2 separate regions of the Homo sapiens genome follow, and region 1 is linked to region 2. Evidence: fine-mapped expression QTL. A gene starts in region 2. The other region holds a variant in brackets. All regions are shown on one strand. Distances are from middle to middle. Region 1 has its middle 44 kb from the start of IL33. Region 2 holds the start of PLGRKT (plasminogen receptor with a C-terminal lysine).

Region 1 (12,843 bases), 740 kb before region 2:
GACATAGGCATGGGCAAGGACTTCATGTCTAAAACACCAAAAGCAATGGCAACAAAAGCCAAAATTGACAAATGGGATCTAATTCAACTAAAGAGCTTCTGCACAGCAAAAGAAACTACCATCAGAGTAAACAGGCAACCCACAAAATGGGAGACAATTTTCACAACCTACTCATCTGACAAAGGGCTAATATCCAGAATCTACAATGAACTCCAACAAATTTACAAGAAAAAAACAAACAACCCCATCAAAAAGTGGGCGAAGGACATGAACAGACACTTCTCAAAAGAAGACATTTATGCAGCCAAAAAACACATGAAAAAATGCTCACCATCACTGGCCATCAGAGAAATGCAAATCAAAACCACAATGAGATACCATCTCACACCAGTTAGAATGGCAATCATTAAAAAGTCAGGAAACAACAGGTGCTGGAGAGGATGTGGAGAAATAGGTACACTTTTACACTGTTGGTGGGACTGTAAACTAGTTCAACCACTGTGGAAGTCAGTGTGGCAATTCCTCAGGGATCTAGAACTAGAAATACCATTTGACCCAGCCATTCCCATTACTGGGTATATACCCAAAGGACTATAAATCATGCTGCTATAAAGACACGTGCACACGTACGTTTATTGCGGCATTATTCACAATAGCAAAGAGTTGGAATCAACCCAAATGTCCAACAATGATAGACTGGATTAAGAAAATGTGGCACATATACACCATGGAATACTATGCAGCCATAAAAAATGATGAGTTCATGTCCTTTGTAGGGACATGGATGAAATTGGAAATCAACATTCTCAGTAAACTATGGCAAGAACAAAAAACCAAACACCGCATATTCTCACTCATAGGTGGGAATTGAACAATGAGAACACATGGACACAGGAAGGGGAATATCACACTCTGGGGACTGTTGTGGGTTGGGGGGAGGGGGGAGGGTTAGCATTGGGAGATATACCTAATGCTAGATGAGGAGTTAGTGGGTGCAGCGCACCAACATGGCACATGTATACATATGTAACTAACCTGCACATTGTGCACATGTACCCTAAAACTTAAAGTATAATAATAAAAAATAAAAAATTAAAAAATTAAAGAAAAATTCACCTGTGTTAGTTTCCTATTTCTACTGTAGCAAATTACCACAAATTTAGGGGCTTAAGACAACACAAATTTATTCTCTTATAGTTATAGAGGTCATAAGTACAAAATCAGCTTCACTGGGCTAAAGTCAAGGTGTCAGCAGGACTGCACTCCCTCTGAAGGCTCTGGAGGAGAATCCGTTTCCTTGCCTTTTCCAGCTTTTAGGGGCCATTTGCATTACATGTCTCATTGCACTTTCCTTCATTTTCAAAGGTAGCAGTATAACGTCTTCAAATCTCTCTCTGCTTCCATGATGGCATCACCCTCTACTGTGGTCAAATCTCCCTCTTTCTCCTTCTTACAAGCACACTTGTGATTATATTTAGGGCCCACCCAGCTAATACAGGATAATCTCTTCATCTAAAAAAAATTACTAATTTAATCACACCTGCAAAATCCCTTTGCCATATAAGGTAATATTCATAGGATCCAGGGATCAAGACTTCGATATATTTGGGGGCCATTATTCAGCCTACCACACTCCCTCTTATAAAGACCCTTGCAATTACATCATTGGGGCCACCTGGAATTAATGCAAGGTACTTTCTCTATGTCTAGATCCTTAACATAATCACAACTGTAAAGTTCCTTTTGCCATATAAAATAACATACTTTATTCACATATTCAGGGGTTAGAACACAGACATCTTTGGACAGCTATGGTTTATCACCTTTCAAATCTATTCTATGGAAATTGGCCTTTTAATGTTTTCTATTTCTTAGGTCAATTTTAGACATTTGTATTTTGCTAGGAAATCAGCAATTTCCTCCTGGTTCTCAAATTTGTTTTGACAGATGTGCATATAATATTCATATACATATATATATATATATATATATTTTTTTTTTTTTTTTTCTGTGACAGGGTCTCACTCTACTACCCAGGCTAGAGTACAGTGGCACAATTATAGCTCACTGCATCTTCAACCTCCTGGGCTCAAGCAATTATCCTGCCTCAGGCTCCTGAGTAGCTAGGTCTACAGGTATGAGCCACCATGCCTGGCTAGTTTTTTAGTTTTTTTGTGGGAGACAGGGTCTCACCATGGTGCACAGGCTATTTGAACTCCTGGCCCCAAGCCATCCTCCTGCCTTGGCCTCCCAAAGTGCTGGGATTACAGGCATGAGCCATCATACCTGGCTCTTACAATTTTTTAAAAAATCTCTTTCTTTGATAGTTATCATTTTTCATTCCTAATCATGTATATTTTTTCTTGTGGGCATATTTTATTTTTGCCATAATCAGGCTCATGAAGCTTGTTGTTTTTATTGGTCCTCTCAAAGGAATAGTTTTTCAGTTGATGCATTCTTCTTCCATGTAAAAAAATTTCTATTTCATCAATTTTAGCTTTTATTTTCTTAGTTTGGGTTTTTGATTGCTTTTTCTAATTTTTAAGATCGTATTTATTTATATTATCTATTTCTTTTATCCAAATAGAAATTTATTTTTCTTTCATGTGTACTTTCATTTTTCTTTCTTTCTATACTCCTATAGGCAGTATAGGAGTGTTATGGTTACTCCACCATCATTAGGACTTACAGGTTTCTTTTTGAAAAGTGTTTTTGATTTTTAAATTTTTAAAAAATTGATATTTAATAGTTGTACATGCAATATTTTGATACCTGCATATAATGTGTAATGAGAAAATCAGGGTAATCAGGATGGCCATCACTTCAAACATGTATCTTTTCTTTCTGTTGGGAGCATTACAAATCTTCTCTTCCAGCTACTTTGAAATATACAATAAGTTATTGTTAACTATAATTTCCCTACTATACATCAAATACTAGAACCTATTCCTTCTATGTTTTTGTATCCTTTAACCAACTTCTCTTCATCCCTACCTCCCTCGCCTTTCTTTTACATCCTCTGGTAAGCACCATTTTAATCTCTATCTCCATGAGATCCACTTTTTCAGCTCCCACATATGAATGAGAACATGCGATATTTGTCTTTCTGTGCCTGGCTTACCAAAGGCCTCCAGTTCCGTCCTTTCTCACTGTCTTCCTTTGTGGTTAAGTGATTTTCTCTGGTAGTATGTTTTAATTCATTGCTTTTTATTTTCAGTATATCTATCATAAGTTTTTGTTTGGTGGTTAATATGAAGATTACAAAAAATTCTATAGTTATAACAAGTTACTTAAAACTGATTCCAACTTAGCTTTGATCACAAAAAAACAAAAAGAAACAAACTAACAAAATAAAACCTTATACATATTAATTCCCCTCTCCTCACACATTTTGAATTTTTGATACTGCAATTTACATTTTTATATTGCTAATCTCTTAATAAATTGTTGTAGTTATTGTTTTTAGTAGTTTTATCTTTTAGTCTTCTTAGTAAAGATTTAATTGATTTACACACCACAATTACAATATTAGTGTAACAATCACATTGGTATCCTTTTCTTTTGGCCTAAAGAACTCTCGTTAGCATTTCTTGTAGGACAGGTCTGGTAGCAACAAATTCCCTCAGCTTTTGTTTGTCTAGGAAAGCCTTTATCTCTCCTTCGTTTCTGAAGAATAGCTTTACTGGAAACAGTATTCTTGCTTTGCAGTTTACTTCTTTCAGCACTCTGAATATATCATCTCACCTCTCCTGGCCTGTACAGTTTCTACTGAGAAGTCTGCTGCCAGGCATTTCAGATCTACCTTATCTGTTATTTGCTTCTTTTTTCTCATTGCTTTCATAATCGCTTCTTTGTCTTTGATCTTTGAGAGTTTGATTGTAATACCTAAGGGTATTCTTATATGGGTTGAAAGTGATTGGTGACCCTTGACCTTCCTGTACCTGGATATTTATATCTTTCTCCAGGTTTGGAAGGTTTATGTTATTATTTCTTTGAAAAAGCTTTCTACCTTCTTGTCTTTCTCATTTCCCTCTTTAACTAAGTAACATGAATGATTGCTCTTTTATTGTTGTCCTGTCATTCCTGTAAGCTTTCTTTATACTTTTCATTCTTTTTTCTCCTCTGACTGTATATTTTCAAATATTCTGTTTTCAAGCTCACTGATTGTTCAGCTTGATCAGTTCTGCTGATCTATTGCATTTTTCCTTTCATTCATTGTATTTTTCAGCTCCAGGATTTCTGGGTTTTTTTTTTTTTAATTATTTTAATCTCTGTTAAATTTCTCTGATACATTTCTGAATTGATTATGTGTATTTTGTAGAAGTCAATCAAGCTTCTTAAAACAGCTATTTTGTATTATTTGTCTAAGAAAGTGCATATCTCTATCCCTTTAGGGTCAGCCTCTGGCACCTTAGTTTTTCCATATGAAGAGTCATATTTCCGTGTGTGTTTTTAATGCTGTGAACATGAAATGATGTCTGCGTATTGATAGGTTAAGTATTTATTTAATATTTTAGTCTTTGTAGTCTAGCTTTCTTTGTGCTTATCCTTGTAGGGATTCTATACAGTCTGACTATTGTTTTCTCTGAGCCTCTGACCTCTGCAGCCATCTCAGCAGTAGAAGATGCTCTAAGTACAGGCTTGCTGCAAGTCTCATGAGGACTATGAGATTGGCACAGCTTTCCAGCCCAGAAGGATCAGGGGAAGACTCAAGGAGGGTACTTGGGCTGTGTGGGAATGCTGGACAGGGACCTGAATCCAGAAGACTGTCCTGGTGGCCAAGATGGATGGCTATCCCCAGTTGGGGACCCATCCCACCTGTGCATGCCTCTCAGCAGGTTTCTGCACATGTGGGATGGGTCCCCACCTGCAGCAAGGGAGGCTGGAGTTGAAATTGGTCCCTCTCAGGATCTGTTATGGGAAGGAAGCTGATGGGCCTATTTTGTTGGCTCAGACAGATATATGTCACCCAGCAGTACCCTGCACAAGCAGGGTAGTTCTTCGACTGCAGCAGGAAAGACCAAAGCTGAGGCTGGACCTCCAAGGGACCTGCTGTGAGACAGACACTGGCATGCTTATCCCAGTGGTTTATATGGGTACGCATCTTCTAGTAGGTCTCTGGATAGATGGGATAGTTCTGTGCAGCAGGGGGAGTCAGAGCGGTTACTAGGGCCCCTCAGGATCTGCTGTGGGACAAGCTGAAGAGCCCTTCTCATTGGCTTAAACAGGTATACATCTCCAAGCAGGTATCAGCATAGATGGGATAGTTCCCCAACTGCAGCAGGATGGAGTGTTGCTGAGATGGGGCCCCCTTGACATCTGCTGTGGGGCAGAACCTGGAGAGCCCTGTCTCATTGGCTCAGAGAGACACATTCTCCCAGCAAGTTTCTGTAAAGATGGAATAGTTCCTTGGTTGCAGTGTGAGAGGCCAGAGCTGAGACTGGGCCTCCTTGGTATCTGTTGTGGAACAGAGGTTTACAAGCTCTAGCCTGTCTGAGAGGCTCAGACTACTGGGCTGCAAGTTATGGGCAAGTCTCCCTCTGGATCCTTATGTAAGCAGCTCTGAGCTGGGACCTCACCTGAGGGGGCTGGAGCAGAACCAGAGAGCAACGTTCAGATTGACTGCCAACACGACTGTCAGTGGGTAGATGAGCCTTTCTATTAGTGTGCACAATTCCTTCTTGACTCCTCGGCAGATGGCTTTGGTTGCAGGATCAAGGCCAAGTGGGGTTGTATCCAAACCCCTTGGGAGACTGGGTCATTTTCTGGCTTGAACCCAGGAACAAGCTTGGTGGATCAGCCACCTATGTGTAGGTCTTCCCTCTGCAAATGATCCTCTGATGTCTTGGACTTCACTAGGGTTTCACAAACTCCTACCTCAATCCTGAGGCTCCTGCAGAGTGACTTTTTACCATGGATGGATGCAGAATTCTTATAGGGAGATATGAGCGGGTTACCTTCTATTCTGCCCTCTTGTCACTTCATTTTTATATGATATATTTCTGATTTTATTGGATGAGGATCAGAGTTTGTGGTTTTAAAAATCTTTACTGTTTTATATTTTAATGTTTTTTGCAGCAAATACAATTTTTGTACAAATCATGGTCATATAAAATATATATTGTCAATTCTAAGGATATATGCATTTATTATATCAAGTTTTGTTTGTGTTATTGTGAAAATAAGTAATTCAAAGTCAAAGCTGTTGGAACTCTAAATTATTGTGAGCCTTAAAAAATGTGAATTATGAGGCTTGAGTCACATCACAGGCTGCTGTAACCTAGGCAGCTAGAACCTTTTTTCCTCTAGTTATGGGTGAAAGCTTTTCCCTTACCTGCATTGTTTTGTAAAATGTTGTAAATGGCTGAAGGATGCCAGGGAAGACCCTCTTTCCTCTACACTATCGACTTTCATTAAAAATTAACCTCCCTCTTTCCTTTCTCACACAAAGAATTCATGGTTATCACATTGCCTTAAGATGGAATGTTAAATACACTCTTTTAAATTTGAAAGGAAATGAAAACCAGCTGTAAAGAAAAGAAAACAAGCCACACAGAAAAGAAAACAAACTGTAACTAATTAATTTGTTGTTAGAATGCTTTCATTTCCCATAATCTGTTTTCCACCCACTACTATCAAATCCTAGAGTTTTTAAAATCATATTTTAAGATCCAAGTATTGAAATATTTAGTACTCTAAGACCCAAAGATTCTTATATTTTTCCTTGCAATATGTAGTTTTTGTTTTAAAAATCCTTATTTAGAATTAAAATTATAATTTCTTGGTCACTCTGCCACTATTCACTTATATTTTTCTACATATAGAGCCAGATGTATTGCTTATTACTTCTCCTCTCCCCTCATTTTGAAATCTCTGTCCTAACATTTGTAGTTTAGCAGTGTTTTTCTCACATGAAGTATGTGATTAATGTTCTCTGAATTCCTGAGTTTCTGCAAATATATATTTTTATCCTGACAGGGCTAGACAGTGAATTTTTGGGTTTCAGCTCACTTTTGGAGGTAGCCTATAGAAATAACGTAATTCATTTTTAGATTTTAGTATGTATTCAGGAAGTTTGATGCCTATCTGATTCTTTTTCCTTTGTAAGTGTGGCAGACACACTTGGTTACCCACTCAACATCTACTGGCTTCCTAACATCAGCACTGATTTTCTCAGGTATTATCCTATTCTCCATGGTATTTATCCCATTTCTTGTTCTGGAATTGTAGATTTTGATTTGTTTAAGTCAATCATGAAAAGGTCATTTACTTCTAATTAGCTTAGGAGTGAGCATGTGACTCTGCTCTAGTCAATGATACATCAAGGAAAGTCTAGTAAGAAATATTTTTTAGAAAAGTTTTCTAGCATTTGAGATCACT[A/G]CTCTATCAATTAGGAAAGTTTTCAATTCAAAATAACATAAAACAAAAATGACCTTTAAAAATTGGGGGATAGTTTTCTCAGATAGCAAAAAGCCCAGAGGCAGGCAGTTGCTGATGTTGCATTTCTGATATCAGGGCATATACATCTCTAGTTTCTTTGACCTTTCCCTCATAGTTGCAAGATGGCTGCTGCAGTTCTAGCTCCAGTCATCACTTCAAAGCAAGAAGAAGGAAAAATAGGTAGGATAATGTCTGTACCACATGCTACTGTCCTTTCATATCAAGAAAGCTTATGGTTTCCCAGAAACCATTTAGCAAAATATATTAGATTGGTCAGGGTTCTTCAGAGAAACAGAATATATATATGGAATATAATGTAAATATATATATTTACATATATGTGTGTGTACATATATATGATGAATAAATATAAATAAGGAATGGTTCACAGTATTATGAAAGCTGGCAAGTCCAATCTGCAGAATGGGTTGGCAGACTGGGGACTCAAGGATAGCTGATGTCCCACTTTAAAGGTCATCAGTCAGGAAGAGCTGATATTTCTGATGAAGTCCAAAGGCCATCTGCTGGAAAATTCTCTCTTACTCAGGGAAGAGTCAGACTTTTTGTTCTATTTAGGCCTGATAGAATAAGGCCCAGCCACATTATGGCAAGCAATTTGCTTTACAGATTAAAATGTTAATCTCATCCATAAACACCCTTGAAGATACACTCAGAATAATGTTTAAACAAACATCTGGGGACCCCATGGTCCAGTCAAGTTGACACATAAAACTAACCATCACACAAACTTCTTTCTGCTTACATCTTATAGTCCAAAATTATATCACATGGTCACCCTTGACCAAAAAGAAGTCTTAGAAAGTGTGTTTAGCTGGGCACAAAATCAAGGTTCTTTTAGTGAAGAAGAAGAGGATGGTGGATCTTGGATAGGTAATCAACAACTACTGCCACTAAGCTACTGCCACTAAGATGGTGGATCTTGGATAGGTAATCAACAGCTACTGCCACTAAGACAAGAGGAGAGACAATTCGTTTGCTGCTTTTGGACATTGTGATGCTGTAATTTTTGCCATGAAAGAAGGTAGTCTGAGGATAAAGCAGAATTATTAGTTTGAAAAAAACCTGGTCTGTCTTTACTGGTGCAGTTAGGCCACTGAATTAACTAACTCTAGAGTGGTTTTACCCCTGGGCTTTGTGTGTGTACGTGTGCACGTGTGTGTATATGAGATATGTATATATACAGTTTCCTTATTTTTAAAGTCACTTTGATGTTTCTGATACTCACCACCAGAAAGCATCTTTATTAATATAATAGCATAGATTCTTTCTGTCTGGAAGTTTTAAAATTTATCCTAAAAGTTTAGAAATTTTATCAGGCTTTTTATTTTTCCAGCATTCCTATACATAACTTGAATACTTCAAACTGCAGATTTAAAATTTTCTTAATTTCAGGAAAATTTTCTTCTAATAGTTTAGTATTATTACCTTGTCTCTATCTGTTTTTATTTCTCGTTCTAGAACTTCAGTTATCCATGGGTTAGGTTTATTTAGCCTGTAGTCTCTTGGGTTTTTTTCCCTTACAGTTCCTATCCCTGTATATTTTTTACTCTGTGTATTATGTCTCCCACTTGATCTTGCAAATACTGCCTTTTATGACACCCCAAATATCACAATTCAGCCTCTCTACCAAGCTGAATTATCCAATAATTGCTTTATGTCAAAAAACAATGAGAGGTAAGACCTACTAGTGATATATGACGCAGGATTTCAGTTTTCAACTTTCTTGCCTCCTAGTTATCCACAGACATTACAAATTTTAATATTTTTCTTTAAAGATAGATTGAACTTTAAGCAATTTTTGTTTCTGTGGGATTAGAGGAGAATAAGAATTCTAAGAATTCAGTAACATAAGACTGTGACTTTGCGATAGACGTTTTAGTGAGCTAATGTGATTCAAGTGGCCTTACAATATGTTCAACAAATATTTTGGCATTACAAAAAGAACTTTTTCAAGTTTATTTTTTAGTTTTCTTGACAAAGTGGTTAACCAAAAGGATCTTCTGTGGGTGGACAAGGATTGAGAAAACTAAATAATTAGATCCATTGAACCTATTGTGGCAGAAATGCAGTGGTTCTATATGGACCTAAACAACTGCAATGTGCACTGTGCTGCTTAAAGCACAGAGGATACAAAGAAAAATGATGCACAGTTCCTGAGTTCAAGGCCATACAATCAGAAGGAGTGTGGGGTCTCATGCACTTGACTTAGGAAAGGAAGAGCATTGAGCTCTGACATGTTCCCTCCTGATGCACCTTTAAAGGACGTATCCCTAGGTCCCAGAGAATGCAAATTTGAGGAGGTGCTCATAATATAATTTTATCTGGGAATTGGGTATAATCATTTCTTGTGTCCTGGTATCATGTCAAAATACCACTTGAAGTATTTTCTTTTCTTGATAATGGATTCTTCTCATAACCCCTCTGACAGGAAGATTAGCCTCTGAGGCTGAGGTTTATTGCCCTAGAGAAGGAAAGGCAGATACTGTCTAGGCAGAAAGAAATTGCTCAGCTCTGAGTTTAAAACCAGGCTTTTGAAAGTCCATGGTGAGAAAAGGGTTAGTTTTTACGGAAATCCCAAAACAGAACCTGGAACGTTGAACATAGATTAAATCTTAGACTGGGGACATCCTACCACACATAAAGGAGGTGACTTGGGTGGGAAGGGAGGTTCATAAATAATGGCTTGTTAGCCCCCCAGTATATTTTGATTTTGCTATATTTATATCTCTTTAAGTGCTCTTGTTATTAGGTCAAATTGTTGTTTATTTCTTCTAGCAGCTCTGGTCAGTTTTCTCCTATGGCTCATCTCCACCCTCTGGCTCCAGCAGCTTCTAGGCTCTGAACAGTTCTATAGTATGGACTGCAGTTGGGGCACTGGAACACAAGGATGTTCACAAGAATGTTCAGCAAGTTTTTTTTTCTTTCAGCCACTTTTATTTCCTTTTAGAGACAGGATCTTACTATCTTGCCCAGGGTAGTCTCCACCTTCTGGGCCCAAGCAATCTTCCCATCTCAGCTCTCCAAGTAGCTGGTAATACAGACATGTGCCACTGCACCTGTCTCAGGCACTTTTAAACAATTACGTTCTCACTTGATATGTAATTTTTGCTGCAGTAGACACTTAGCTTTTATGAATTTAACTTTTTCAATGATAACTCTTTGCAAGTGATCACACCTTCCCATCATGTGTATTCGAGATCATACCTTCCCATCATGTGTGTTTGAGTATTTTTTATTTATTGTTTCACTTATTTACATATATTTTCTTTAATTTTTTGGAGTCAGGCTCTCACTCTGTTGCCCAAGCTGGAGTGCAGTGGTGCAATCATGGCTCACTGCAGGCTCAACTTCCTGGGCTTGAAGCAATCCTCCTGCCTCAGCCTCCCAAATAGCTGAGACCACAGATACATGCCATGATGCCTGGCTCATTTTTCAATTTTTCTTTTTTTTTTTTGAGACAGAGTCTTGCTCTGTCGCCCAGGCTGGAGTGCAGTGGTGCGATCTCGGCTCCCTGCAAGCTCCGCCTCCCGGGTTCACGCCATTCTCCTGCCTCAGCCTCCCAAGTAGCTGGGACTACAGGCGCCCGCCACCAAGCCCGGCTAATTTTTTGTATTTTTTAGTAGAGACGGGGTTTCACCGTGTTAGCCAGGATGGTCTTGATCTCCTGACCTTGTGATCTGCTTGCCTCGGCCTCCCAAAGTGCTGGGATTACAGGCGTGAGCCACCGCGCCTGGCCTCAATTTTTCTTTTGTGGAGACAAGGTCTCGCTATGTTGCCCAAATTATTTAGGTCCATACAAAACCACTGCATTTCCGTGACAATAGGTTCAATGGATCAAATTCCTTAGTTTTCTCAATCCTTGTCCACTTACAGAAGATCCTTTTGGTTAACCCGTTTGCCAAGGAAACTAAAAAATAAATTTGAAAAGGTTCTTTTTGTAATGCCAAAATATTTGTTGAACAGATTGTGAGGCCACTTGAATCACTTTAGCTCACTCCTGGGCTCAAGTGATCCTGAATGAGAGTTATTTTAAAGCTGGAGTTACTTTGACAAAGAGCATGCCTCTCTGACCGCTCAGCTGTGTCTCGTCTTGCCTTTGCTGAATTTCACTCACTGTAGCATATTACATTTGTGAAAGATGGAAACGAGTTTTCACATGTGAAAAATGGCTATCAGAGGACGGGAAAACTTTAGTAGAAGTTGAAAGGGAGTTAACACCTGTGGCTTGAGAATATGCACAGAAAACAGGAGACTCTCAGTGGGATCTATGATTTGAGGGAAGGTCAGGTACCTGCCTAAACATTTCTATGTTCACAAATATGGACATTCATGACCATCTTTGAACATGTTCATGTTGTGTGTTAAAGTTTTATTGTTTTGAACCATGATTTCTTATTAGTTAATTACCCTCAAACTCAGAACAAAACTGATTAAGTTGCTCACTAACAGCATGTGATCACTTTCCAAATGTGTCTTTTTCACTTAGTTTGCAAAAAAAAAAAAAAAAAGTGTTAAAATTCTGCCTTCCAAGTCAGTTTTGATCTGGTAGCTCACATTCTTATTCTTCACAAAGAAAAATACCTTTTGTGCATGTGATTTATTGCCTCACTGAATCCTACCCCGGCAATACTTGAAATAATATTCTTTTCATATCACTCCAAGACTAATAGAGAAAGGTCCAAGTGGCAGGATACTTCCAGATATCAATTTCAGTCAAGTCCTTACCAATATAAGAAGGTCACACAACAATGAAAAATACCTTTTACTTTCTGCATCTCCTTATAGGTAGAATACACCAGCTTTAGTAGTCTGAGTTTGGAGCTGTTTTGTTTTAAATCAGAGCAGATGGTTAATTTTCTGTGTGTTTCAGGGCAGAAATTGTCATATGATAGGATGACGGCTTCCACCTATGTTTTTATAAGGTAATCTCAGCCTAATGAGAGTACAGCAGATGGGGATGGAAGCTTATACTGTGAGTTGATAAAGGGAAAACAAACCTGATCAGGGAGTGGAAAGGTTAGCTTTCCCAGCACTGAATCAAGGTTTTCATGAATGATAAAGATTATTCCCAAGTTGCTCATAGCACCCTCAGCGTGGGGTGGCTAGGAGACACCTGAAGAGGCAACCACTAATTATTCTGGTCTTGAGAAAGGCAGTGAAAGCCTCCATGGCCATGCCTGTGGTCAGTGGAAAGAATGCCACAATGGGGCATTCTCTGGGCCCACCCAGAGCAGGAGATTATACGTAGTGCAGGACCAGGCCTGAGAGCAGAGACATTTAGCAAGAGAAGCAAAAGGAGCAAAAATTACCAATATAGACAAAGAGCTGGACCCTCTTCATTGCCTGGTTAAATAACTTACCCACATTCTCACAGTTAATAAG
Region 2 (12,843 bases):
ATCTTAATCTTAAAAATCTCTAGGTAGGGAGAGAACAGGATCTGAGTCCACTGATGCCATTATATTACACTGCCACATGGTGTCACCGTTGAGGAATGGATGAAGTCCAAAGAAGGCTTACACAAAGCTTGTGTCCAGGTCATGCCCAAGCTACAGAGGTGCCCCAGGATTGGAGTGAAGGTTAAAATCCAGAATTTGGGGAGCACCATCCCAGAATGGTTTAATATTAAGGAGGTTCTAGCCTCAGCCCCACACTGTGCAACTATTTGCAGTCCTTCACAGACCGAAGTTCTTGGCTAAACCTGGTTCCCAGCTCAATGGGGAAATTCAAATCCTTGTGAAAGCATCTCTGTTAAAAGGAGACACTGCTAGGCACATCTTAAACTTCCAAACACTTTATTTTTTGAAAAACTGCTTCTTTATGGAGGTCCAAGGAAATATTGGGCAATTTTTACTGTCCTGGGATAGGGAGCATCAAATGAGTTGAGGATTTTACATCAATTTTCTCTAAAATATTTATACTACTTAACTCAGTGTATACATATGCATGTGCATATATATATGTGTTTATATATATACACACGTATATATACACACATGTATATACGTGTGTATATACACACATGTATATACGTGTGTATATACACACGTATATACGTGTGTATATACACACATGTATATACACACATGTATATACGTGTGTATATACACACGTATATACGTGTATATATACACACATGTATATACGTGTATATATACACATATGTATATATGCGTATACACACATGTATGTATATATACACATACATACGTACATATACATATACATACATATGTATATATACACATATGTATATATATATGTATACACACATATGTATATATACATATATATACTGAGAAATATCCAGCAATGGAAGTTGTTACATACACACTTATTGAAAATCCTTTAGCTGTTAAAAATGGTAAATATAAATGCAATGTAGCAACATAAAAATCCTTATGTTATAATGCAAGATGATATAAAACACATATTTATATATATGCATAAAAATGTACACATATATATTCACAAATTCATACAACTGAAAATAATTCACATACCAGTTAAAGTTATATGCCATTTGATTCTGAAATAAATTTCCTTTAACCCTCTTACTCCACATTTTATAAAATGTGTCCAATATCTATACCAAGACTTTTTTTTTCAATTTCCTGGGCATATTTTTCTATGGTCACTTTTTTCACTTATGTTTTAAAATTATGAAAAACATCATACATACAAGAAAATTTATAATGTGTGTTTTCGGTTTAACATGTATCCATCAGGAATCAGAATTTTACTCAGTTGGTTTGATTAAAGAGATATTAGTGAAGACACTACTTAAAGGAGTATGACTAAGAGAACCATCCAGTTGAGTCATCCAGAGTCTAGCAACAGCAGGAAGACTGCGCTCTCTCTAGGCTACATAGCAAAGGAGAAAAGTGTTTCCAGAGCCCATGGAGCTGGAGCCATGGAGAAGGGACTGCTTGCCAAGAGCTGCAATTGTGGAGAAACACAACCACCACCAGATACTCAGCCCCAAACAGAGAAAGAACAGAGAAAATATACCCTGATGTCTTTTTCCTCCTGCCTCCCATCTCCCTGAATGCCTCCCGCTGTCCAAACTCAAATGGAAACCAGCTGAGGAGAGCCCAGGTGGTGCCGTCCAAAGAGGTCAGCTTTGGGGTATAGAACAGGGCAGGGAAGTGAGGAGAATGAATATGATGGAAGGCAAACAGAAAACCTAGACAGTCTAATTGTTTTGTCACCCAGAATTTATTCTTTTCCTTTGCTCAGATGAAGAGCAGCTCATCCCTTACATATGAGAATGACAGAGTCTGACAAGATTTCTCCTCGACCAAACTTTAGTCAGGCTCCTCTAAGCCATCTCCTTGATTAGATATTGACCTTGGGCTGCAGTGTTCATCCTTGCAGAATCAGTGTTGGCAAGAATCCTGCTAAGTCAGTTTAGAGAGGATCTTCCCACCCTGAATGTTTGACCACTCTCAATATCTGATCAAATTCCTTACCCCCACCAGCCCCCAGGTGATGTCTGCTTACCCTGGCCTACCTTTAGCAAGAATCCTGTTAGGTCAGTTTAGCAAGGATTTCCCCTACCCTTGCTGTCTCTTCTTAGTAATTTTCCATCCACGGACCCCACCCCCATCCACACAACCTGCTCCTCGGCTATAAATCCCCACTTATCCTTACTGTATTCAGAATTGAGCCCAGTTCTTTACCAAGGTCTCTTTCCCCCTATTTCAAAAGTTGCTGAATAAAAATCTATTTTTACTGCTACAGCTATTGTCCAGCTTTGATTTTCCTTAACAAGCCTCATCAGCTGCCATATTGCCTTGAGGGGATGTCAGTTCAGGCACATTCTCACCCAGAAACTAAATTGTAATATTTATCTCCACCACTACTCTTTATGCAGGGTAATAGGAAAAGAGAGTCAGGGAAGAAGTAATTAACATTTTAAATGGAGAGCTACTATAATTCCTGCCTCTAGAGCTTGTTGCAAGGCTAAAATTAATAATCATAGCTTCCTACTCATTTACTTATGTATGTTTCCCCTGCCCTATGCCAACACCTAGGTAGATCAGGATTTTTTTATCTGGTATGCTTCAACACTTTAATTTCTTCATGATCTGAAATTTCTGCATTACTTCAGTTATCTGATAATCATTATTATGGCACACGGCAGTATTAAGAAGTGCCCAGTGAATCTCCAGGTGTCATGCATAGTTCTTCTTGCCCTCAATATATAGATGTAACCCAATTTCCTTTTGGTATTTGGGATGAATCATACCATTCTGTCACTGTGAGGAATCAAAGTGACCAGAGGGCAGTTTCAGCTTTCGAATCAATGAATTGAAATTCAATTCAATTCAGTGACGGGGTCTTCTAGTGGCAGCATTCCTTCCTTTGGATCTAGGCTTCCAAACACAATAAACCCAAGGTTGTAGAAATGGTGTGCTGGAATACTATGCAGCCATAAAAAATGATGAGTTCATGTCCTTTGTAGGGACGTGGATGAAGCTGGAAACCATCATTCTCAGCAAACTATCGCAAGGACAAAAAACCAAACACCGCATGTTCTCACTCATAGGTGGGAATTGAACAATGAGAACACTTGGACACAGGAAGGGGGACATCACACACCGGGGCCTGTTGTGGGGTGGGGGGAGGGGGGAGGGATAGCATTAGGAGATACACCTAATGTAAATGACAACTTAATGGGTGCAACACACCAACACGGCACATGTATACATAGGTAACAAACCTGCACGTTGTGCACATGTACCCTAGAGCTTAAAGTGTAAAAACAAACAAAAAAAAGAAATGGTGTGCTGGATATTTTCTATTTCTCCCTCCAGGCATTGTGCCTAGTAGGCTGACCTCTACAGACTACACAGACCTAGCTCCACTGTCTTCTGGCTTCCTGGTGGATCCAGCCAGCGGAAGACCCCAGCTGGATATCAGAGCTGGGAGAACAGAGAGGTGGGTCTTCTCCACTCTGTCCCTGCTTTGGGCTGACGTCTCAGCACTGGCTACAACTATAGAATCTCACCTTACTTGGTGAAAAGTTGGCATTGCTTGCTTTCCTCTACTGAACGACACGGTTCCAGTTGGTTACTCTCTCGTACAGCCACAGCTACCGCTCTCGCTCTCGCCTGGTTTTAGTAACTGCTTCCTTCCCCCACCCCTCAGCCCTATAGTTACTAACAGCTCCCCGCTGTTACTGGTTACTACTGGTTACGGAAGGCGAACTATGTGCCCGACACTGTGCTAAATGCCCACATATATTATCTTTTAGTCCTCACAATCCAATAAATTAGATGGCTTTAGTCCTGTTGCAGAGGTGATAAATTCAGAGTGACAGTGACAGAGCTAGAAATTGAAGGTAGGTGTGTTTATGCTAGAGTCTGTGCACTCAAACACGATTCCTTACTTCTTGCATCAGTTGTTAACCTCCCTTCAAGAGTGTCAAACCTCCTGGTAACCCGCCCATTCCCTTAACTGGAAATGAGGGTGCTGTTGCAATTTTCTCATCCAGCCATTCCACAAATGGTATCTGGAATGTGGGACCCACAGTCCAGAATCCTGAGGGCTGCTGTTGAGAGCATCAAGACGCGCCCAGGAGGTCAGGGCGGTGTGCACTCACACGCTGAGCCTGGAGAAAGTTAGACGCCTTCTCCACCGCTGTGGTGGTTAGCAGGGACTTTCCTGAAGGCCAGAGACTGGTGACGTTCATGCTATTTTTCCAAGCCATTTGGTAGCAAAGAACAGAGTGCCAACAATTCAAGCATTCTCTCAGGCTGGGAGAGAGACGTGGCTTATTCAAGATAGAAATTGCTGGTGAGGTTGAGGCGAGACCGACATCTCTCTGAGCAGCAGGGGAGAAAGACGGCTCTGTTCAAAAAAGAATGGGTAATTTCAGTCAATTCTCTTCTTTCTCGTTTCTGTCTTATCTTTATGACTTTTTAATAGTGCCAATTTAACAGATGAGGGGACAGAGGCCTTTAATTGAGAATTCCACTCCGCTTCCTCTGCCTCATCTCAAAAATCTGGCAGCTGAGTCGCCGCGGCTTTGAATTTGCCTCTTTTGACCTTCCCCTCCCACCTCTGGTAACACTGAGCCTGGCCCGGAAGGACACACCCGGCTTCTGGCGGAAGTGCCGGCTCTTTAAAGAAGCTGAGGGCTGCGCGAATTGGCTGAGGTGCGTCATCTACTGTGTCTGGGCGCCAATCCCGACGCTGGGCGGAGCGAGGCCCGGTCCCTGCAGCGGGCGAAAGGAGCCCGGGCCTGGAGGTTTGCGTACCGGTCGCCTGGTCCCGGCACCAGCGCCGCCCAGTGAGTGAACACCGGCCGCAGGCGGGTGGGGAGAAGGGTCAGCCCGGCCATGTCAGTCAGCGCGATCTCCTGGGCTCCGGGCTTGCCAGGCAGCGCTGGGCGCCCGCTCCTCGTGAGCGCCGGCTCTTGGCTCTCGCACTGCCCCTGGTGCTGATAGGTATTGCCAACTTCGTTCCATTAGAGCGCGTTCTTGTCGCCTGGCGTGGACTCCGGATCTCTCCGTAGCTTTAAAATAGAGTTGAGAAAAACAGGCACAGTGCTCTCAACAGAAATCAGCACACTATTGCGGGGAATACCTAAATTACAGTAACTGGCCTCAGGGAGCAAGGGCGGTGTTAATTACAGAAAACCTCCGGAAGCTGTGGGCTCTGGGCTGGAATTTGCAAGGGGATGTGGCTTAATTTCAATGGGATGCAAATATTGAAAATGACTGTGGTGAGACGATCAGTCATACATTCAGGCAATGTGTCATCTGATCGGGAAATAAGTCAGCGTGGTAATCCCGATGACAGAATTCATGCAATTAATTTTTTATGTCCCCCCAAGTAAAATCAAATCTAGGTACTCACGGGTGACCGGAAGAAAGGTTGTCTGGAACTTGCAGGCACCACTTCTCCTCCCCAGAAATACACCTTCCCATAGTAATCTATAGCTCACCTGAGGCAGGGCTGAAGCATTAAAGACCCCTTCCAAGATCTCAGAAGGAATCAAAGGGAAAATGAAGACAGAGGGATTGAAATCAGCATTCTCTGCAAAACATCACTCTGAGACACAGTGATGTTTAAAATTGTATAAGTAGCAAGACATTTTTTTTTACCCCTGGTGAAAAGTGTTAGAATTTTTAAAAGACTTAACTTATACAAGTGAGTGAAATCAAAGTTATCCCTATTGCAAGGTCAATTTTGCTTATTTTCTGATACATATTTTGTGAGCAAGAGGAGATAGCTGAAAGTGTTCTGGACACCCTACGGAATATTCCCAGACTTTGGGAAATGACTTTGCCAGGAATGGGGAAGTTGGGAAAGGAAAGAATGTTGAAAATACTGAACTCCAGGGTGAAATTTACAAGGTGTGATGCATTTATTTATTCTCAGGTGTGGTTTCCCATAAGGAAGCTCTTCTTCCTGCTTGGCTTCCACCTTTAACCCTTCCACCTGGGAGCGTCCTCTAACACATTCAGACTACAAGTCCAGACCCAGGAGAGCAAGGCCCAGAAAGAGGTAAATCTAAATACTAACTTCCCAGACAGTGTTTCTTTCCCAGATGATTGACATGAGGACTCTCTCTTTTCAGGGGAGATCCTAACCCCTTACAAACAGGAGCACTTGAAAGCACACAGCTCTGTGATATACAGGGTATGTGGAGGAATAGTACTAGAGTACAGTTGTTTTCTTTATAAATGTTTGCAGCAGGTGTAAAAATTTAGTCATCCACTCCTATGTTCAGAAGAAAAATAAGTAATGGCAAGTGGCCTGAGCCACAGTTTTTCTTGTATCTCTCATGCTTTGTGCAAATATTTAGGGGAAGTAGACACCATGGAGACTATCAAGATGGATAATATCTCGCTCCTAACCTCAGGCAGGTTCTGGTCTGCTGTTAGAGATGAGTCGCATGGGACTGTTAGGGTTTGGAGAAAGGAAAGAACTGCCAAATCACCCTGCTGTCAGTGAGTGGCCTCTAACTCTGGTCACAGGGTGCTCGAGTGGCACAGTGGCAGAAGGGGAGGGAAATCTCACCACCTCAGGCCTTTTCAGCATTGTGCCTCTTCATCCTGGTAAGTGGTTTGGTATCCTGTGCTCAGCTTTGAAGCTGACTCTGGCACAGAGCCCTGAAACTCCAGGTGTATCCTTGATCAGAATACAAGGAAGTCACTGAAGTCTTGCTTGCAGCTCCCACTCACCTGGAACCCCATTAGCTGGGCTTCCCACAGAATACTTGGGAATCCTGGCTGTAATGAATTAAGACTGGCCATTCTTACCTGAGGTTCACAACCCTACTCAACAGCCTATTAAAGAGAAAAGGTATCAGCAACATTGTTGAGAAGGGTAGAGCAGTTGTAACTTTCCCCTGAGTTTTGCAGTATTCTGAAATGCAACCAACTAACTCAAGGTCTTCTGTACCCACCCAGTTGGATTAAGAATAAAAATTGGAGTTCTGTCCCTTGTAGAGTTGACAGCCCACTTAAAAACTTACATAAGATAGACACTACTGTGCATTCATCTAAAAAGTACATTTTCCAGGACATTCAAGTATCTGTATGTTTTTCCATTTTTGAGAACTTTAGTACATGCTATCTTGGAGAGAATGAGAGTGAAGCTGGAGGAGGATGGCTAAGGCAGTTAGCAGTGGGTGGATGGAAATAAGGGGCATGTAGGAGAGGGACAGGGATTGTGGTGGGATGACAGGAAGAATAACTGGTCTACTGACCTTGAGACAGCTCAATCTTCTTCTTTTTTTTTTTTTTTTTAGTATTTATTGATCATTCTTGGGTGTTTCTTAGAGAGGGGGATGTGGCAGGGTCATAGGATAATAGTGGAGAGAAGGTCAGCAGATAAACACAAGAACAAAGGTCTCTGGTTTTCCTAGGCAGAGGTCCCTGCGGCCTTTGGCCCTGTTTGTGTCCCTGGGTACTTGAGATTAGGGAGTGGTGGTGACTCTTAACGAGCATGCTGTCTTCAAGCATCTGTTTAACAAAGCACATCTTGCACCACCCTTAATCCATTTAACCCTGAGTTGACACAGCACATGTTTCAGAGAGCAGGGGGTTGGGGGTAAGGTTATAGATTAACAGCATCCCAAGGCAGAAGAATTTTTCTTAGTACAGAACAAAATGGAGTCTCCTATGTCTACTTCTTTCTACACAGACACAGTAACAATCTGATCTCTCTTTCTTTTCCCCACATTTCCCCCTTTTCTTTTCGACAAAACCGCCATCGTCATCATGGCCCGTTCTCGATGGTCGCTGTCTCTTCGGAGCTGTTGGGTACACTTCCCAGATGGGGCGGCCAGGCAGAGGCACACCTCACTTCCCAGACAGGGCGGCCGGGCAGAGGCGCTCCTCACTTCCCAGACGGAGCGGCCAGGCAGAGGCACACCTCACTTCCCAGACGGGGTGGCGGCCGGGCAGCGGTGCTCCTCACATCCCAGATGATGGGTGGCCAGGCAGAGGCGCTCCCCACCTCCCAGAGGGGGCGGCCAGGCAGAGGCGCCCACTTCCCAGACGGGGCGGCTGGGCAGAGGCGCTCCCCACCTCCCAGACAAAGAGCAGCCGGGCAGAGGTGCCCCTCACTTCCCAGGCGGGGCAGCCGGGCAGAGACACCCCTCACCTCCCAGACGGGGCGGCGGCCGGGCAGAGGTGCTCCTCACTTCCCAGACGGGGTGGCGGCCAGGCAGAGACGCCCCTCACCTCCCAAATGGGGCGGCCGGGCAGAGGTGCTCCTCACCTCCCAGACGGGGTGGCCAGGCAGAGGCGCCCACTTCCCAGACGGGGCGGCCGGGCAGAGGCGCTCCCCACCTCCCAGACGAAGGGCGGCCGGGCAGAGGCGCCCCTCACTTCCCAGGCGGGATGGCTGGGCAGAGACACCCCTCACCTCCCAGACGGGGTGGCGGCCGGGCAGAGGCGCTCCTCACTTCCCAGACGGGGTGGCGGCGGGGCAGAGACGCCCCTGACCTCCCAGACAGGGTGGCAGCCGGGCAGAGGCACTCCTCACTTCCCAGATGGGGCGGCCGGGCAGAGGCGCTCCTCACTTCCCATTTGGGGCAACGGGGCAGAGGCGCTCCTCACTTCCTCCCAGACGGGGCAGCCGGGCAGAGGCGCTCCTCACTTCCTCCCAGACGGGGCGGCCGGGCAGAGGTGCTCCTCAATTCCCAGATGGGGCAGCCGGGCAGAGGCGCTCCTCACATCCCAGACGGGGCGGCCGGGCAAAGGCGCTCCTCACATCCCAGATGATGGGCGCTCAGGCAGAGACGCTCCTCACTTCCCAGACGGGGCAGCCAGGCAGAGGCACTCCTCACATCCCAGACGGGGCAGCCGGGCAAAGGCGCTCCTCACATCCCAGACGATGGGTGCTCAGGCAGAGACGCTCCTCACTTCCCAGACGGGGCAGCCGGGCAGAGGCACTCCTCACATCCCAGACGGGGCGGCCGGGCCAAGGCGCTCCTCACATCCCAGACGATGGGCGCTCAGGCAGAGACGCTCCTCACTTCCCAGACGGGGCAGCCGGGCAGAGGCACTCCTCACATCCCAGACGGGGCGGCCGGGCAAAGGCGCTCCTCACATCCCAGACGATGGGTGGTCAGGCAGAGTCGCTCCTTGCTTCCTAGACGGGGTGGCGGCCGGGCAGAGGCACTCCTCACTTCCCAGATGGGGCAGCCAGGCAGAGGCGCTCCTCACATCCCAGACGGTGGACGGTCAGGCAGAGATGCTCCTCACACCCCAGACGATGGGCGGTCAGGAAGAGATGCTCCTCACATCCCAGACAACGGGCGGTCAGGCAGAGACACTCCTTACTTCCTAGACGGGGTGGCCAGGCAGAGGGGCTCCTCACATCCCAGACGATGGGCGGCCAGGCAGAGATGCTCCTCACTTCCTAGACGGGGTGGCGGCCGGGCAGAGGCACTCCTCACTTCCCAGAGGGGGCGGCCAGGCAGAAGCGCTCCTCACTTCTTCCCAGACGGGGTGGCTGGGCAGAGGCGCTCCTCACTTCCTCCCAGACGGGGCGGCCGGGCAGAGGCCCTCCTCACATCCCAGACGATGGGCGGCCAGGCAGAGACGCTCCTCACTTCCTAGACGGGGTGGCGGCCGGGCAGAGATGCTCCTCACCTCCCAGACAGGGCGGCCAGGCAGAGACGCTGCTCACTTCCTAGACGGAGTGGCGGGCGGGCAGAGGCTGTAATCTTAGCACTTTGGGAGGCCAAGGCAGGCGGCTGGGAGGTGGAGGTTGTAGCCAGCCGAGATCACGCCACTGCACTCCAGCCTGGGCAACATTGAGCACTGAATGAGCGAGACTCCGTCTGCAATCCCAGCACCTCGGGAGGCCGAGGCGGGCAGATCACCCGAGGCCAGGAGCTCGAGACCAGCCCAGTCAACACGGCAAAACCCCGTCTCCACCAAAAATACAAAAACCAGTCAGGAGTGGTGGCGCGTGCCTGGAATCCCTGGCACTCGGCAGGCCGAGACAGGAGAATCACCGGAGCCAGAGGCAGGGAGGTTGCAGCGAGCCGAGATCATGGCGGTACAGTCCAGGCTCCGCAAGAGAGGGAGACCGTAGAAAGAGGGAGGGGGAGGGGGAGGGAGAGGGAGAGCTCAATCTTCTTAAAACGCAAATGCAAAGAGCACAAAGAAATATGTTCTTAAGACGCACAAGGCATCTTCTTAATCATCCCTCCTCAGATGCAAAGGTTCTGTTGCCTAATTGTACAGAGGTAAGAAGATGGATGGTATCCACCCTTCCCCTCACAAAAAAAGAGAGTTGTTTTTTTCTTCAAGAATTCAGTTCTTCAAGATTTATGGTGGGAAGAAAAATCAGGAAACAGCCATATACTTATAGAGCAGGGAAGGATTTTGGAAATTATCTAGTTCAATCAGTTGGTGTTAGGTGAGTAAAATGATGGCCAGACTCGTTAAGTATGCCTGAGGTCAGGCAGCTAGTTAGGAGCAAGAACTAGAATCCACACTGTGTTCCTAGATCAGAAATTTTACTTTTTTTTTTTACTTTGTCATAAGCCCAAGGTAGCTCAAAGTGGAGCATACAAGAATGCATGTAGTGTATTATTATAAGTCTCCTTGCTTTTTTTACATTTTAGGTCAAAATGGGGTTTATATTTTCAAAATCTATGAATGAAAGCATGAAAAATCAAAAGGAGTTCATGCTTATGAATGCTCGACTTCAGGTATGTTTTAAAATAATTAAGCTATTATGTTGTTACAATGCTTAAAGTTTCTACCACATGTACTCCAGCCGTACATTCTCTTTGACTCCCAACAATAAAATGTTCTTTGGGCTGCATCCTTAAAACCAAGATAAAATGGCTTACTAATTATCTGGTGAATGGGCTAATTTAAATCTCCAATCCAGATAAATTTGTGTAAAAATTTCCATTCTGTAGGAAGAGATAACTGCTTAGAGTATGTGGTACATAGAATAATGCCCCCCACCCCCAAAGATAATGTTTGAGATGGGGAGATTATCCTGGATTATGCAGATGGACTCATTGTCATCACAAGGGTCTGTCTTTTTTTTTTTTTTTTTTTTTTTGAGAGAGTCTCACTGTGTTGCCCAGCCTGGAGTGCAGTGGTATGATCTGGGCTCACTGCAACCTCTGCCTCCTGGGTTCAAGCGATTCTTGTGCCTCAGCCTCCCTAGTAGCTGGGATTGCAGGCATGCACCACCACTCCCGGCTAATTTTTGTATTTTTAATAGAGACAAGGTTTCACCATGTTGGCCAGGCTGGTCTCGAACTCCTGGCCTCAAATGATCTACTGGCCTCAGCCTCCCAAATTGCTGGAATTACAGGTATGTGTGCCTGGCCCACAAGGGTCTTTATAAGAGAAAGAAGGAAGCATGAGAGTCAGTATAAGAGAGATTTGAAGATGCTACACTGCTGGCTTTGAAGATTGTTTAAGGATCATGAGTCAAGGAATTCAGGAAGCCCCTAGAGGCTGGAAAAGGCACGGAAACAGATTATTCTTTAGAGCCTCTACAGGGATGCAGTCCTGCCAGCCCATTTTGGACTTCTGAACTTAGAACTGTAAGATAATAGATTGGTGTTGTTTTAAGCCACAGACTTCGTATAATTTGTTACTGCAGCAATAGGAAACTAACATGGAGTGTGAAACCTTAACATTGGATTTAGACGTGGCTGGATAGAAAAGATCAAAGCACTGCAGAAGATTATCTAATTGCCTAATACAGGTTGTAAAAAACATTTTAAAATGTTGCAAGTCAAAAAATCAAGTCTTAAAAGTTTGACCCGAATTATTTTCCTAAGATTTCAGACAAAGATGTCTAGGCCTCTGTGGCCCATTATGGCTCTGGGAGTAGAAAGTCCTCTGGTAAGGCATGTAGCTAGTGGTTAAAAATGAAGACTAAAGCCAGACTGCCTGAGTTTGAATCCCAGTCCCACCCTTGACTAACTGTGTGACTTGTGCCTCAGTCTCCTGATCTGTACACTGGAGGTAATAATATCCCCTTCAAAGGGATGTTTTAAAGATTAAAGATGAAATATATAGAACAATGCCTCAAGTTTTTAGAAAAATGCTTCTCACCTCATAAATATTTGTTGCTGTTGTTACTATTATTGTTTTTAATGACTGACAAGAGTGTCTTATGCAGAATAAATATCTCTTTGGGGACAATGAAACAATTGAAAGAATGGACAACTGAATTATTGTAACAGAGCAGTGACCTAGGCGAGACCAAGTATTAGGTTTACAAATCAGCCAGCTATCCGATGCTTAGCACGTCCTTGTCAAAGACCTTTGGAAACTACAGGGTTTTTACTCTTATGTTGGTCCCCATGAAGTCAGGGTCTGTGAAGGGTCTGGGATTTTACCCTACTTGCAAGCTAACGTGTTAGCCTATTACAGAAGACTGGAGACAACTACATCAGAGTCAGAGGACTTTATTACTCACAGCACAGCAAACAGCATGAGCGTGGTGGTGTTAATTCCCCATGTCCTCCAAAACTCACCGAGGTGACAAAGATGGGCACGGGCGAAATGAGTGCTATGCACTCAGTGGATTTGTGTCACAGTTGAGCAGCGTTGAGCTTAGGGAGCCTACTGCTTTTACAGTGGGCCATGAGCAAGGGGTGGGTTGTGGCAGGGGGAGAGGGTGGGAGCTACTCTCCTCGTAGTTGTTGTGTCCTGGTTGACCCACCCCAAAATGGAGATGTCAGACCTGGGAGTTACAAGCCTCCATGGGTTCATTTTTAACAAGAGCTC

The links.
Region 1: its variant is fine-mapped to the expression of PLGRKT in gastroesophageal junction (GTEx, PIP 0.97).

Annotation. Positions count from the first base shown.
Region 1 is chr9:6,165,452-6,178,294 of GRCh38, reverse strand. No RefSeq gene overlaps it. Among named protein-coding and RNA genes, the nearest start is that of IL33, 44 kb to the left of the region's middle. RefSeq lists an enhancer at 11,255-11,756. The variant A/G (reference allele first, on the strand shown) is at 7,381.
Region 2 is chr9:5,429,844-5,442,686 of GRCh38, reverse strand. It overlaps PLGRKT (plasminogen receptor with a C-terminal lysine), which reads left to right and starts at 4,762. Exons shown (of 6, transcript NM_018465.4): 1 at 4,762-4,898; 2 at 5,993-6,118; 3 at 10,704-10,790. The coding sequence starts at 10,710. RefSeq lists enhancers at 3,396-3,555, 5,116-5,205, 4,261-5,460.